2 separate regions of the Homo sapiens genome follow, and region 2 is linked to region 1. A link means that fine-mapping ties the variant in region 1 to the expression of a gene that starts in the linked region. Tissue or cell type: whole blood. Region 1 holds a variant in brackets; the other region holds the start of a gene. All regions are shown on one strand. Distances are between the middles of the regions.

Region 1 (8,110 bases):
AAGTTTCTCTAAGGTTTAAATCTAGAAGGAGGAATCCTGGGTCACAGAGCATGTGTAACTTAAACTTTATACCAAACTATGCAAAAGTTCTCTTTTCTCCATAACCGTAGTAACTTCAGTATTGAAAAACTCTTAATATTTTTGGCAGTCTGGTGGATGCACAGTAGTTTGTCAGTGAAGTTTTAGTTTGCGTGTCCCTGATTACTAATGGTGTTGAGAACTTTCTCATGTTAATTGGCTAATTTCCTCTTTGTGAAGAATGTCTTCAGACCTTTTGTACATTAAAAAAAAAATCGTCTATCTTTTCTTATTATATAAGAATTCTTGATATAGTCTAGATACTAGTCCTTTGCCAAATGTATTTGTTGTCAACATCTCCTTATTCTGTGGCTTTTTACAGGCTATGTGGTTTCTTTTGGTGAAGAGCTTTTAATTTTCATGTAGTCAAATTTAGCAATCTCTTTCTTTAAAGGTTAATGCTTTGGGGTCTTAAACTCTTCCCTAAATCTGCAGTCATAAAAATATTTTCCAATAATGTAGTTTTACTTTTTGCATCTACATCTACAATCCACCTGGAATTGACATTTGAGTACAGTGTGATATACGGGTACAATTTCACTTTCTTTGCATTTAGACACCAACTGACCTGCCACCATTTATCGAAAAGAACTTCTTTTATCCATATGTGTCAAATGTTCACAAATGTGTAGGTCTGTTTCTGCACACCCTATCTGTTCTATTCATCTAGCACTTAAAGTACAGTATTGCCTAGAAATGGTGAATGCATTCTTGTTTCTAATCTCAAAACTGTCAATATTTAACCATTAAGTACAATGTTTAATGTAGATTTTTGATATATTTTTATATGTGTATTTATATATATATTTGGATATAGATATTGATATTGGTACATATATTAATATATATATTTAAGGAACAGGGTTTATTTTTCTGGTTTTTTTTTTTTTTTTTTTTGAGACAGGGTCTTGCTCTGTTGCCTAGGCTGGAGTGCAGTGGTGTGATCTCAGCTCACTGCAGCCTCGACCTCCTGTAACAGGCAATCCTTCAACCACAGCCTCCTGAGTAGCTGAGACAAGAGACACATGTCACTAGGCCTGACTTTTTTGTTGTTGTTGTTGTTGAGATGAGGTCTCATCATGTTGCCCAGGCTGGTCTTCAAATCCTGGGCTCAAGCAATCCTCCCACCTCAACCTCCCAAAGTGCTGGAATTACAGGTATAAGCCACCATGTCCAGCTGGAACAGGTACTGATACAGATATTTAAGGAAGTTCACTCCTTCTAGTTTTCTAAGAGTTAACAAAACGAAATTTGGATTTCATCAAAACTTTTCCCACATCTATTAAGATAATCATATTATTTTTTCTGCTTTTAATCTGTTAGTGTAGTGAACCACATTTATTTCTAATGTTAAGTCAATCCTGCTTTCTTAGATTTTCATCCAACTTAGTCATAACGCATTGTCCTCTTTATAAAAAGATATTGCTACTACCATTAAGGAGTGTTGTAATCCATATTCATTACTGATTGGAAAAATTATAGGACAATCTCTTTCAGTTGAATTTCATGTCAAAGTTATACTAATACTAGTGTTCTTCTCACTCTCCACTTCCATCCTCTGAAAGCAGTTGTGCAAGACTAGAATTATTCTTTCATTTAACGGTTGGTAGAACTCGGTATCTACCTGAATCCGGAGCTTTCTAGTTTAATTTCTGTTTTTCTTTTTTTTTTCTTTCCTTTTTTTTTTTTGAGATGGAGTCTCGCTCTGTCACCCAGGCTGCTGGAGTGCAGTGGCACGATCTCGGCTCACTGCAACCTCTGCCTCCCGGGTTCAAGCGATTCTCCTGCCTCAGCCTCCTGAGTAGCTGGGATTACAGGTGCATGCCACCAGGCCCAGCTAATTTTTGTATTTTTAGTAAAGACGGGGTTTCACCATGTTGGCCAGGCCGGTCTCGAACTCCTGACCTCAAGTGATCCACCCGCCTTGGCCTCCTAAAGTCCTGAGATTACTGGCATGAGCCACCATGCCCATGCCCAGCCTCTGATTTAATTTCTTAATGGTTATTAGGACTATTCAGATATTCCGTTTCTTTTAAGAACAATTTCAGTAAACTATATTTACTAAGAATTTATTTCATTTGAACTTTTGAGTACATCAGCATACAAAAGTTCACAATATTCTCTTACATGTTTAATACATGGCTCCAACTATAGTTATATCTCTTTATTTTTGATACTGGCTAATTGTATCAGAGTTAAGGTTTTAAAAAAACACCTTTTGTCTACTGATTTGCAGTAACACTCTTTTTCATAATAAATCATACCACAGGTTTGTCTATCAGTCTTTTTCCAAGAATTTTAGGCTTTACTGAAACTCTCTAGTGTGTGTATTTTCTGTTCCATTAATTCTTAGTCTTACATTTATTATAGTCTTTTTTTCTTTTTGGAGATTTTGCTCTTATTTTTTGAACTTAAGAAAGATACTTAGCTCATTAATTTTTCTTCTCCCTTCTGTTTCTAAAATATGCACTTAAGGCTAAACATTTCCTCTTAATCACGATTTTAAAGCTATATTCCACAAATTTCGATATGTAATGCTTTCATAATTGTTCAAGTCAGTTATTTTTCCAATTCCTATTTTGATTTCTTCTTTGATCCATGAGGCATTTAGAAATATATTTTTGAATTTTAAACATAACAGAATTTTTATTGAACTTTTTGTTATAGATTTCTAACATAAAAAATAAGGTCAGATAATATGTTCTGAATAATTTTAATAATTTAAAATTTGTTGAAACTTACTTTATGGCACAGCATATGAGCAATTTTTATAAATATACCATATGTATTAGATAAGAAGGTATATTCTATAGTTGTTGGGTATAAAGTTCTATATTTGTCCATTAACACACATTTCTTAGTAGAGAAGTTCTATTTTGATATGTATTTACTGATTTTTGTCCTTTTCTCCCTCAATTACAAAGAGAAGAATATAAGTACAGATTTATCTAGTTTCCATGTTGTTCTCTATAAAATTTCCTTATATATTTTGAGGGCATATAATGTACTCATGCTTTTTGCCTCAAAATTTATTCTGTCTGGTATCAATAGATACAGGAACTTTCTTTTCAGTAGTGTTTGCATTGCTTTTTATCCCTAGTCCTTCCCTACCCCAACTTTTCTTTATTCTTTTATATGTAGATATGTCACTTGTAACAGCAGGTACTGGATTATTTTTAATACTAATCTTTAGATCATTAGTACTCAATATAATTGCTGACTTACCTAGATTTATATTTATCTTATTTTGGACTTTCTATTTGTTCCTCCCATACTCTATTGTCCTCTACTATCTTGTCTTCTATTTATTATAAACTAGTTAAGATTTAAAAACATAAATTAATCATTGTGTTTAGTGGTTACACTCAGAAATTAAAATATGTATACTTAACTTTTCAAAGTTTAAAATTAATTATTAATTTACTCTCCTTCTGGGAAATACAAAGGCCTTGGAAGAACTTATTTACCTCCCTTCCAGCTTATACACAATAACTGTCATATATTGCAAATCTCTCTCTCTTCTTAACTCCAAAAGACATTATTTGTATTGGCTTTAGAATCAGTGTGCATTAAATTTGCCCATATAGCCCTTGCTATTTGTTTATCCTTACAACTTAAGACTTTCCATCTGAAATCACTCTCCTTTTGCCTGAAGTACACCTGTAGCTTCTACTGTTTCAGTGAAGAAGTCAAACAGGTGTGAGTTTAACTGTTGTTATTCTTGTGAAGGAAATCTGGGTGTTTTCACCCTCTGTCTTTGATGGTCTGTAGTTTCACTATGATGTGTTTAGGTTTAAGTTTCTTTTTAATTTGTTTTCTTGAGAATTTGTGGTTAGTATCTTTGATCAGTTCAATTATAGCCATTATACTTAAAGACTTTTTATCCTATTTTGTCTATTTCTTTTATTTATGACCAAAAAAAGACAGCTTTTTCCCTTTTATTCTGCATGCCTCAACTTCTTTATTTTTCATCTTTTCCCTCCCTGCTGTATCCTGAATAATTCTTCTGACTTACTTTCCTCTTCACTAATTCTATCTTCATCTGTATGTCCAATGTACTACTAGTATGTACACCGAGTTTTAAATTTTGGTTATGTTTAATTTCATTTCTAAAATTTATATCCTAATATTTCACAAATCTACAGGCTATTTTAAATAATTCCATTTTGAAAGTTTGCATTTATGTTTTTAAAAACCGTAAACAGAGCTTTAAAAACATTAGTTTGTATCGGATCACTCTAATATCCAAGAAGCCTTACCAGCCTCTTTCTACTGTTTGTTGTTTCAGTTACTTCTCATTCATGTCATATTTTCTTATGTATCTGGCCATCTCTGACTTGTGTACTAATTGCTGACTTTGAAAAAATTATTTGTAATAATAATTAGAGACCTGGAATGAAAACCCTCTCTCCAGAAAATTATATGATTTTCACTAC[C/CT]TTTTTTTTTTTTTTTTTTTTTTGAGATGGAGTTTCATTCTTATTGCCCAGGCTGCTGTGCAATGGCACAATCTCAGCTCACCACAACCTCCGCCTCCCGGGTTCAAGCAATTAGCCTCCCGAGTAGCTGGGATTATAGGCACACACCACCACGTCCAGCTCATTTTGTATTTTTAGTAGAGATGGGGTTTCTCCATGTTGGTCAGGCTGGTCTTGAACTCTCGACTTCAGGTGATCTGCCCACCTCGGCTTCCCAATGTGCTGGGATTACAGGTGTGAGCCACTGTGCCAGGCCGATTTTCACTACTTTCTTAACAGCCTTTCTCCAAAGTATTCTGTCTCTTGTTTAACTTACATAAAGTAATAAGAGTATCTCTGGGGTACTTTATTGAAGCCAAATTCCTTCCAAATGGTCATTAAGTAGCTAAGTGAGGATTAGAAACCAGGTAGTCTTGCTCCATTTTCACTCTGCAACATACATCCAGGCTGACTTCCACATTTTCTAAGGTTATAGAACCTATAACAACAGCACATATTCAGGTCAGATGAGGTGGCTCATGCCTGTAATCTCAGCGCTTCGGGAGGCTGAAGTGGGCAGATCACTTGAAGTCAGGAGTTCGAGACCAGCCTGGCCAACATGGTGAAACCCCCATCTCTACTAAAAATACAAAAATTAGCCGGGTGTGGTAGCACATGCCTGTAATCCCAGCTACTTGGGAGGCTGAGGTGAGAGGATCACTTGAACCCCAGGAGGCGGAGGTTGCTGTGAGCCAAGATGGTGCCTCTGTGCTCCAGCCTGGGCGACAGAGTGAGACTCCATCTCAAAACAAAAACAAACAAAAAAGCAGATATTCAGAATGATTACTATTTAGATTGACAGATGGCAATCCTTTCAATCAATTAAGAAATAATAATGGATTCACCTCTTATAAATATAAATATTAGGCTGGGCATGATGGCTCATGCCTATAATCCCAGAACTTTGGGAGGCTGAGGCAGGCAGATCACTTGAGGCCAGGAATTTGAGACCAACCTGGCTAACATGGTGAAACCCTGTCTCTACTAAAAATACAAAAATTAGCTGGGCGTGGTGATACATGCCTGTAGTCTCAGCTAGTTGGGAGGTGGAAGCAGGTGAATCCCTTGAACCTAGGAGGCAGAGGCTGCAGTGCGCCGAGATCACACCACTGCACTCCAGCCTGGGAGACAGAGCGAGACTCCATCTCAAAACAAAAACAAGAACAAAAACAAAGTGCATATATATAGTATAAATATTTATAGTGTACCTACCTGTTACATAACACATTGCATTTAGGGATAAAAACATGAAAAGACATTGTTCCCTATCATTCCTTTCTTTTAAAAAGGCTACTGTCTAAAGAGAAGCCAGGTATTCAAACAAAAATTATAATACAGTAAAATAACTGCTTATAATAAAGGCAGAGGGATACCTGCGAATAAGCTATGGGGTCAGACTATCTATCAACCCTGGCGCCACCATTTACTAGCTGTATGACATTGGGCACAATACTTAACTTCCAATGGTTCAGTTTCTCCAATGGGGAAAGGCTTGAAAGTGATAAAGTACTTAAGACTGAAGCAAGACAGTGCTATAATATTCTCTTCATATAAAAAGAAAAAAACATAGTAATGAGTTTCAGAAATGTTTTTAGCCATCAAAGCAAATAAAAAAGAATTTCCTAAAGCTCAACCCCAAAACAAAAACTAATGACATTCAAACCTGGTTGAAAAAAGTCTGTCATATCTTTCTTCTAATCTTTTGGTTTTGGAAGTAGTCACAGACTCATAATAATTCCAGTGAATATAATAACTCTTCCATCAAGTAATTATATAACCATGGTAAGTTCCTTAAATTCCAGAGACTTCAGTTTCCCATCTACAGTAAATTTTACATTAGACAATCTCTAGTGTAAGTACATAGGTTTACTTTTTCCTGCTAATGCAATGGAATATTATCGCTGAATAAATTAGCATTCTGCCCTTAACCTCTAATTTGTCCACAAAATGCAAGTACTATCATCACTGATAAGGCGTTATCTTTTTGATATACCTGGTTCATTAATACTGTGATATAATAAAGCAAATTTTATGTTGCGTCAGTCTTATTAAAATGAAATTACATAAACAAATCTACAAATAAAGATTTTATAAGTATCTACAAAATAAATACAGAATTGCTACATTAACTATATTGAATACAGCCAAGAGCCAAGAAAAAAATCTGAGAAGTCAAAATATACAAAACAACTATGTACTAAAATGTACAATCTATAGATGTCTATAGATGCTTTCTTTGTTCAAAGTTTATTTACTCCAATTTGTACGTACTGTTCTAGAGATTAGTAAAACAAGCATACCTAAAAGTAACAGCTGAGATCAAGAGATAGATAATCAGATATGAACTAAATAAAACAAACACATTGCATCATGACATCACTATGGGTACAGGGGCAGGGGTGTCACATCCATGTTATAGCTAATCATAAAGAAAAAGGTTATGCTGACGTATTTATTAAGGCAGAAGTGGCTAAAAGAAAAAAATATTTTTTTCAGGAAAATTAAAATTAAAAAAGGGTTATGCTCAAAGCAGTAAGAAAAAGTTATCTTTAAATATCACTAATGAAGAACAAATCTTTCCTTCTCTAGTTTTGTCAGATAAAAGCAAATGCATCTAAAATAATTTTTTCAATACAACAATGAAGTATATCAGGAGATATTAGATGTACTTTTTACTTTTACCTTAAGTCACAACAAAAAGCCACTTCTTTGAAGTACTTAATTCCATTCTACTTCTTAGTTGATAAAAGCAGATATTTTATAGAGCTTTTTATCACAGCTGGTTGTATTAAGGAGATGATGGAATCATTCCTATGAATATGATTTTCTCTATTTCAAGAATTAGAAAACAAAGCAAACCATTTACTTTTCTATAGAAACAAATCCATCCAAGATGGCTTTTAATATTTCTTTGACAAGATAAACTGACAATTTTGCCTTTAACTGCCTAATTAAATAAGTACCAAACTTAAAAGCTAAGTTTTCTATTGTTCATCAAGGTCACATGATTATTCTGTAAAGCTAAGTGGACTTGTGGCATGAAGGTCAGCAAACAATATATACTAGCAAGCTTGTTGGCCTAAAAAATGCAAACAAAGAGACAGAAACAAATACAGAAATGAAACTCATTTTAAAATAAAAAATATCTAACATTAAAAAAATCTCAGTATTTTGTATTTGCAAAGCCACTTCTGAATGACAAACGACTAAAATTTACACCATTTAAAACATAAGAAAGACGCATGAGAGCAACCATGCTACACTAAGAAGACTTAATATGGATTGAGTGCTATTTAAAGCTTATACTACTTAGGGAGAGTTCAGGACTATGGTTTCCAATTCTTTTGTGAAACACTGTTAGAAAAGAATGAAATCAGTCAATTTATAATTTATTTAATTGCCCAGGTGAACACTTTCTATGAGGCGTTTCACTATCTCAGAAGAACACATATACCACTTATCAACATGAATATTCAGAAAGCCAAGAATAAAGGTTATTGTGAAAATAGGGAATTTAA
Region 2 (8,110 bases), 940 kb before region 1:
GTGACACAGCCAAACCCTATCAGTATGGAATGCACTTATGCATACCTAGAGTAATAAAGGAAAAGAAATAATAATAATAGCTGGTATATATAGTACTTACCCTGTGTCAGGCACTACCTAATCTGTTTTTAGAAATAACTTCTTATTTAAATTTGTTTGTCAATCCAATGAAGGAGGTAATATTATCATTCCTATTTTACAGATAAGGAAACTAAAGGACAGAAAGACAAAATGCCCATTCATACACCTAGTACAGGGTATTTGATTTGAACCCAGACAGTCTAATGAACTTGTGCTCTTAACAACTACAGACAAGATTTGCAATGAGACCTTAAGTTAACATCTTACTAGTGTCATTCCCCTGGTCCAGTTATTTATCCTCTTTATGTCCCAATATTTTCATCTGTAAATAGGAATAATTTTGTGTATACACATACATATATATACACACATATATATGTCACAAGATTATTATGAGAGCATAGTGAGATAATGAATTTGAAAAGGTTTGGTGCTTGTCATCACTGCTGCCAACTGACCTAAGCTAACATGGCCTCAAATGTCAGGTTCCTTTGATAAATATTGAAGCCTCTTGCAGTTAGAGCTGAGTTATGCAAAGGCTATGTTCCCCTCCCTTACAAACCCAGTACCTGATAGTATGCTATTATGAAAGTAAGTCTTGGACAAATTTTGCTAAATGTCTTAACATTCATTAGCAAACAATTACAGAAACATTCCTGCTTTCTACTCTTAGACGCTCCAATGGTAAGCTCACTAAACAGACATTCTAAAGTTAAGACTAGCAGCCTTGAAGTCAAGGCAGAAAACGGGGACCTCTTGTGAGGTGGCAATTCCCTTGAACACTACACCAGCAGTAATAGAGATCTGAGGATGTCTGCTTCTTTATACTTCATTCATGCAATAGCAGGAGGCTGTGTTCAATCTCCCCACAAGCCATTCACCATGAAAATTACTCATTTTGCCAGTGAAAATGATTCTCTAACATGCCCTGTTCTAATTAACAAACTCTCAGGTATCAATTTCCATAACCATATCTGAAGTGTTAACCATCACCTTTGGAGTGTGGATTCTTGGTTAGAGTACTTCAGCACTAATTAACTGCTTCTAGAATATGGACTACAGTTAACTTGTACATTGTCACATACGTAAAACTAATTTATACCAAATTAAAGTATCATCACACAACAATGTAACAGTGACATGTTTGCTTAATAAATATAGCCCCTCCCTCTTTCTGAATCCTTTATCTTTGTCTATCCCCACACCCAACACATAGCCCCAGTAGAATAGGTGGCTAGAGGTTTTGGAGCCTAAATGTTTTTGGAATCTAATCAGGAAGTGTGGGATTATAGAAAATTCTATATCATTTCTCCCCAAGAAATAAAAAAGCTCATCATATATATAAATTGATATATTTAGAACAGTATAGCAAGGTTGAGATTTTTCCACATAATATAAATGATTATCTCTAGCTACACAAACTGTTGCTTTTTATAAGACACTTGAGTAAAGCTTGCGGGGATAGAGAGACATAGTCCATTATGCAGTATTACCCACAATACTGAAATTGTGGATATTCCTTTAGTCTTTTATCTATGCATGGGTTTATCAGGCAATGTATATGTATGAATTTGTGCATGATTTTAAAGATCCCATGACTCTCCAAAATAATTGCAGTTTATTTTATTACTATGAAAGATAGCATGTTCTTGCTGTAAAAAAATTAAACGATACAGAGAAGAATTAAAAAGAAAGTTAAAAATCTTTTAAAATGCTACCATGAGTGATGAGCACTAAAAACCAATCTCTCTGTCTTAACACACGTGCATAATTATCAAAGAGATCATGGTGAAGACTTGGGTTAAGAAGTGGAAAAAGTCATAGCAAAGTTCAAAGCCTTCTAAGCAGTGCAGGCTTACATTTGCTTCCAAGTAAAAGTTCCTGTTCTGTGGCAAACCACTTCTCTGGACTTTTGGTGCAAACGTGTAGTGTGAATTGAAAAGTTTTAGAGTTGTAGCTCTAAGGAGCTAACCTGGTCTGCACAATAACACAAAAATCATCTCTGTGACGGCAGACTTTCCCTTTTGCTGATTATTTTCAGGAAAGTAGAGAAAAAATATTAAATCATTTCAAGACCAAGATAACATTGCTCATTCTTGGGAGTTGTATGTGTATAACAGGGATTACGCAAGCAACCAAAAAAACCACTGATTTTGCTTGCTCGTGGGGTTTCCTCTTTCTTGTTGTTGTATTCAAAACTCAGTCTAGCTCACAGAGACCCAGAAGAAGATGAGAAGCAGGCCTTAGACATGGTTACCACTTCAAACTGGAGAAAGGTCTCTTTGTTTATTGTCACTACATTGATCAAAAAGTTGCCTATGAGACCTGGATAAGACACTGCTTATCTCAGATTCCTATAATGTAAAGACATGCTAGTAGAAATTAGGCAGCCTGGACAAAATTTGAATTTATGTATGAGTATTTTTAAGGTTATTTGTGTGTGTGTGGCAATAGTAATTCTGCCTTATGGTTCTGTAATGGTTTTTGTTTGTTTGGTTGGTTGGTTGGGCTTTTTTGAGATGGAGTTTCACTCTTGTTGCCTAGGCTAGAGTGCAATGACAATCTCAGTTTACTGCAACTCCGCCTCCCAGGTTCAAGCAATTCTCCTGCCTCAGCCTCGCAAGTAGCTGGGATTACAGGCATGTGCCACCATGCCAGGCTAATTTTGGTATTTCTAGTAGAGACAGGGTTTCACCATGTTGGTCAGGCTGGCCTTGCACAACTGACCTCAGATGATCCGCCCTCCTCAGCCTCCCAAAGTGCTGGGATTACAGGCGTGAGCCACCGCGCCTGGCCCGTATGTTTGTTTTTAATGATGGGGCCTCGCTCTGTCACCCAGGCTGGATTGCAGTGACCTGACTATAGCTCTTCACAGCCTCAAATTGTGGGGATCAAGCTATCCTCCCACCTCAACTTTCTGAGTAGGTGGGGCTACAGGTGTGCCTGGAATGTTTCTTTACTTTTTGTTTGCATTAGAAATATTTCCCCACCTCATTCCATTTTCCATCTCTCTTAATTTTCTAAAATACACGTGTTTTCTAAAACCAGGTCTAAACCCCACCTACAGCTAAAATCCTCCAATAACTTCCCATGACTTTGGTGATAAAATAAAAAATCATTAGCAGAATTGAGAAATCCTTCCTGATCTGACTCTTAACTTCTCTCCCCCAAGTGGCATGAAAGCATCATTTGGATTCTGAATTCCATGACACCAGGTATCAAGTTTTCTACCAGTCAGAATCACTACTTATTTACAGACCATATTTACAGAGGGAGACAATATGGAGAGGTTCTTGCTCTATTCTTGCCATAACACCATGTCTTCAATTTCACAACTAGATATATAGTTCCTATCCCTCTAATTCCCTTCTCCTCTCCAGCGCTTTTTCACTTGATCAACACCTAGCTGATTCTAGCCTCAGCAAAGACCTCACCTGCTGTATGTAGGCCGGCTCTGCCGTTTCCAGAATGGGTTAAGTATGCTCTCTTGTGTGTCCATATCTACCTGTGCTTTCCTATATCCAGATCTCCAACAGCCCCTGTTGTAACATCCTTGTCATCACCATCTCACAGCTCTTACCACTGTAAGCTCCTTGGGGCCAGTGACTGTGTTTTTATTTCTGTATTACTAAGGTGAATATACAAGGCAGGAATTTAATATTAGCTAGTTCATTTGATCCTGCCAAACCTCTGTAATTAAGGAAGCAGAAAAGGTCCCATAGTCTCATTCAATAGGTGGCTGAGGTTTAGAGAGTTTTGTATCCTGTCCAAGGTCTTACAGCTAGTTAGAAACAGAAACTAAATTCTCAACTTGAGTCCTGTATTCTTTCTACTATTCTCCCTCTCAATCCCTCTCTCTCTTTCTCTCTCTCTCTCTTTCTCTCCCTCTCTCTCTCTCACACACACACACACACACACACATACACGCTTACATGTTTCTACCATCGTGAATGAATTCTAGGTCAAGTTTATGATGTTAACCAGATATTCCAACCACTATGTGTTGATATGACTCTAAAAAGAAAAAGATTTCTGAAAGCATTTTGCGAGGCATTTATAGAAGTAAGAGATATTTTCATTTTATCACCGCAACCTCCATTAAAAATTGGAGACTATTATTCCTGGAGACTTCAGAATTTTCTTTGGAAATATCTCCCAATTCAAAAGGAAGTCTGACACAGCCTCATAAAAATCTATGTCGTAATAGGTGCTGTGTCACTGAAAACCACTGAAAAGACAGGGTTAAGAACACAAAGTGAGCTGCACACCATATATGGAGAAACCCGTTTCTTAAAACTAGTGATGAACTCATGCTCTGTTCTGTTTTCTCAAAGCTGAAGTCGGCTAGGTTTGCAAAGCTGTGGGCTGAGCACTCAGGCAATCACACTCTCAGAAACTGCGGCGGCTCTGGACTGCAGCCTCCCAAGGCTCCATGCCAGACAAAGCATGCGTGTCACACTTGCTACAATAGCCTGGATGGTTTCTTTTGTCTCCAATTATTCACACACAGCAAATATTTTGCCAGATATCGAAAATGAAGATTTCATCAAAGACTGCGTTCGAATCCATAACAAGTTCCGATCAGAGGTGAAACCAACAGCCAGTGATATGCTATACATGGTAAGGAAAATATCATTAATTGTGGCGTCAGTCAGTCAGAAACAACTAATGTGTATTGACTTTGGTGTTAATACCTTCGTAATACTGAATGATTTTTTTTTCATTGTGATTAATGTATGCAGTAAATTCACAGTCTGTGATCAAAACACATCCAGTTTAGCTCTGTCTACCCAACTGTTGTTATAAGCAAGTGCCACAGCACATTTTACTTCTCTTTGGACACTTCCTGTTTTCTGGTTTTCAGTGGATTTTACTTCTCTTTTTGTTATCTTCCTCCCTGTTAATTTTTGTGATTTGGTTTTCTTTTTTTTTTTTTTTTTTTGTCTCTAAATTTACTTTTTTTGCTGCTGACAAAGTACTGAGTTGCTCAGGTAGGCAGAATGGCATCTGGGGAAAGGATGGGATTTTGATTCAGTAAGGCTTGGGATTGAATTTCAGATCTGTGGCTTTAAGCTGGTTTTTAACCTTTCTGAACTTCTTAGGATATGGGCTGTTGTGGTTATGGAATAATGTTGTGAAACACGGCACACACTATTTTGCCCACAATTAGCCTTCAGTGAAATGTCAGTTTTCCTCACTTAGATTCTAAATTCCATGAAACTAAATTGTCACGTTTCCTACCAGCCCTACTCAGTGCTTGAAGACCATATTTATAGAGGACTCATATGCAGTGGTATCTTCTCTCCTTATCTCACCTCGTTTTCCATTCAAATTCCCACTGTACTCACCCCAGTTACATTTCAGATGAACCCCCTATTGTTTAATGTTTATTTTTGCAGACTTGGGACCCAGCACTAGCCCAAATTGCAAAAGCATGGGCCAGCAATTGCCAGTTTTCACATAATACACGGCTGAAGCCACCCCACAAGCTGCACCCAAACTTCACTTCACTGGGAGAGAACATCTGGACTGGGTCTGTGCCCATTTTTTCTGTGTCTTCCGCCATCACAAACTGGTATGACGAAATCCAGGACTATGACTTCAAGACTCGGATATGCAAAAAAGTCTGTGGCCACTACACTCAGGTAAGGATCTGCCCTATATTATCTTGAAACTGTCTTTTCAAGTATGAGGAGAAAAATTGTACTATGAAGTTAAGAAAATGTATAGTATGCTAGTATACCTGTAAATATAAGGGAGTTAAATAGAACAGCCTCCAAGAACAGAAAATAATGCTTGAAAAGTTTAGTTGTGTGAACTAAACACATAATAGGTAATATGTGAGGCCCACCAACTTGGACAGGCTTTGAACAATTCCTGTAACAGCTATTCTCCCATAGGACTTTATTCCATTTGTGAGAAATCAAAGAACCTTATGAGTGAAAGGATTTTCAGGTTCCAGCTGTAGCATGAGTTTTAAATGAAATTTGAGCCAATTGTTTTGGGACTATAAAATTGGAAGAAACAAGACTCTCAGACAGAAACATCAATAAGAACTGATGCTTCCACAACCTCTCATTCTCTCAAACATCGACTGAAAACCTACTGTGTGCCATGCACTAGGCACCACGCACGGTGCTACACAAGGAGGGAGAAAAAGTCAGTCCCAGGCCAACAGAGAGGCCAACGTGTAAACTTATATGAACCATTCTGAGGGTATTCTGCCCCCAGAATCCATATTATTAGTCCCAATAGCCACATTCAGAGCCACCCATTGAGTTTTTTTTTTTTTTTTTAATTTTTACTCAAGCTGATTCTGGCTCCCTAACCCTACCTCACATTTGCAGCATGATGGAAACAACTCTCTAGGGAGCATCTGTCATAATTGTCTTCAGACGCTGCCTTCCTGTCCTGGCTACATTTTGTTTATTTACTGTCACTTCCTGGCCATCCTTGTCAAACCAATAACGTACGGTACTTAACCTATAATTGACTGTTTTGGGGCACAAAAAATCAGTTGAAATGAGGTATGAAGGCAAAAACGTTTCTATCAAGGCAGTTACATTGAAACATTAGGTGGTTTTAAGGAACAACATGGTGTAAGAAAACCTCCCTTACTCCAGCTCAGCCTTACAAAGCCTGTGATCTCATTCGTGGTGCTACAGATGAACCAAGTTTGGTGCAGTTACAAAAAATTATTATAAGAGTAAAATGAATTTCTCCTAAATTTACTTCATAAACTAACAATTTTGGTTTACATTTACAAATAAATTTAACCAGGAAATAAGTTTCCTTGGATTCCAACAAGACCTAGGGGAGTAGAAAGCTAAATCTAGATAGCCTACAAGTGGTACTTGTACTGTTATGCATTGCGGTATTTAAATACTCAGAAATAATTGTCAGTTTGAGGGTGCCTACTTTCATTTATTTATTAGTCAGTGTTTAAGCTTTTACCCTATAACAGGCACTAGTGATATGTCTTAGTCCAGATTCTTGGAAAACAGAGCCTGAGACAATAGTTTATGAGCTAACATTTTATTGGGATACAATCTTGGAGAAGCGGAAGTGAGGAGAAATAGGGAATGAGCCAGGGAAGGAGGAGAAATACAGCTGGAAATGGTCCCTGGCCCTCAGAAATTGACCTTTTGGGAGAGACTTATGTGTAAATGGATTATGACAGTGTTTGGCTAGTACAATTTAGAGAAGCTGACAAAGTGCCATGTGAGCAAGGAGGACAGAATGAGCAACTTATCCGGCCAAAAGGAAGTGTAAAGCTTCACACTGCTGGAGACATGTGAATTGGTACTTGAAAACTGAGTGGGAATTTTTCAGATGAAAAGGAAAGGGAAGAGAATTCTCAGCAAGGTGTGGAAAGTATACAATGTGTATGAATGGGCCTGGTACTTTAGATCAATGGCAAGAAGCTCAGCATGCCAAATATATAGAGGTCAAAAGACTGTAAAATTGACAACAGACTCCTAAACCATGCTCAATACACAAGTTAAGACACTCCATGTTCACCATTCCAGGAAATCGAAAGAAGAGAACATTTGAGTTTATGCCATAAATGCCTGAGATTTCACAGATGGCCCTCCCAAAATTAACTGAGCTTACTTGTAAAATTTCCCCTTACATCTAAGGGAAAAAAGGAGGACTAATATTTTGGTCATGAGAAAATTCATTTTCTAAAACCCAGTCCCATACATACAGATATTAAAACCCAAGCTCAGTGATCCTAACATGAGTGATCCTCTTTAAGAAACCACTACATTCTACCCCCACTTCAGAAGAGGGGCACTCATCACGGGGAGAATGTCCAAGAACCCCCTGGGCTGGGAAGATAGAGCAGCAGCAATCACTTTTTAAATGGGCATAGTGTTTAGCTCTCTACACTGAAGACCTCATTCAATTATTACCACAAATCTATTAAGGAGATGTTAATGGTATTACCCACAGGTGAATAAACAGACTTAGAGAGGTTAATAAGTTGTTCCCCTGATGTCATTTAGCTAGTAAGATGAAGAGTTGA

What was found. PIP is the estimated chance that this variant, and not a neighbour inherited with it, causes the effect.
Region 2: it holds the start of GLIPR1, and the variant in region 1 is fine-mapped to the expression of GLIPR1 in whole blood (INTERVAL, PIP 0.99).

Annotation. Positions count from the first base shown.
Region 1 is chr12:76,413,496-76,421,605 of GRCh38, forward strand. The region is part of intron 4 of OSBPL8 (oxysterol binding protein like 8); the gene reads right to left. Among named protein-coding and RNA genes, the nearest start is that of BBS10, 69 kb to the left of the region's middle. The variant C/CT (reference allele first, on the strand shown) is at 4,515.
Region 2 is chr12:75,476,354-75,484,463 of GRCh38, forward strand. It overlaps GLIPR1 (GLI pathogenesis related 1), which reads left to right and starts at 4,402. Exons shown (of 6, transcript NM_006851.3): 1 at 4,402-4,701; 2 at 5,481-5,726. The coding sequence starts at 4,528. It overlaps GLIPR1-AS1 (GLIPR1 antisense RNA 1), which reads right to left. Exons shown (of 2, transcript XR_007063373.1): 2 at 7,101-8,110. RefSeq lists an enhancer at 6,670-6,719.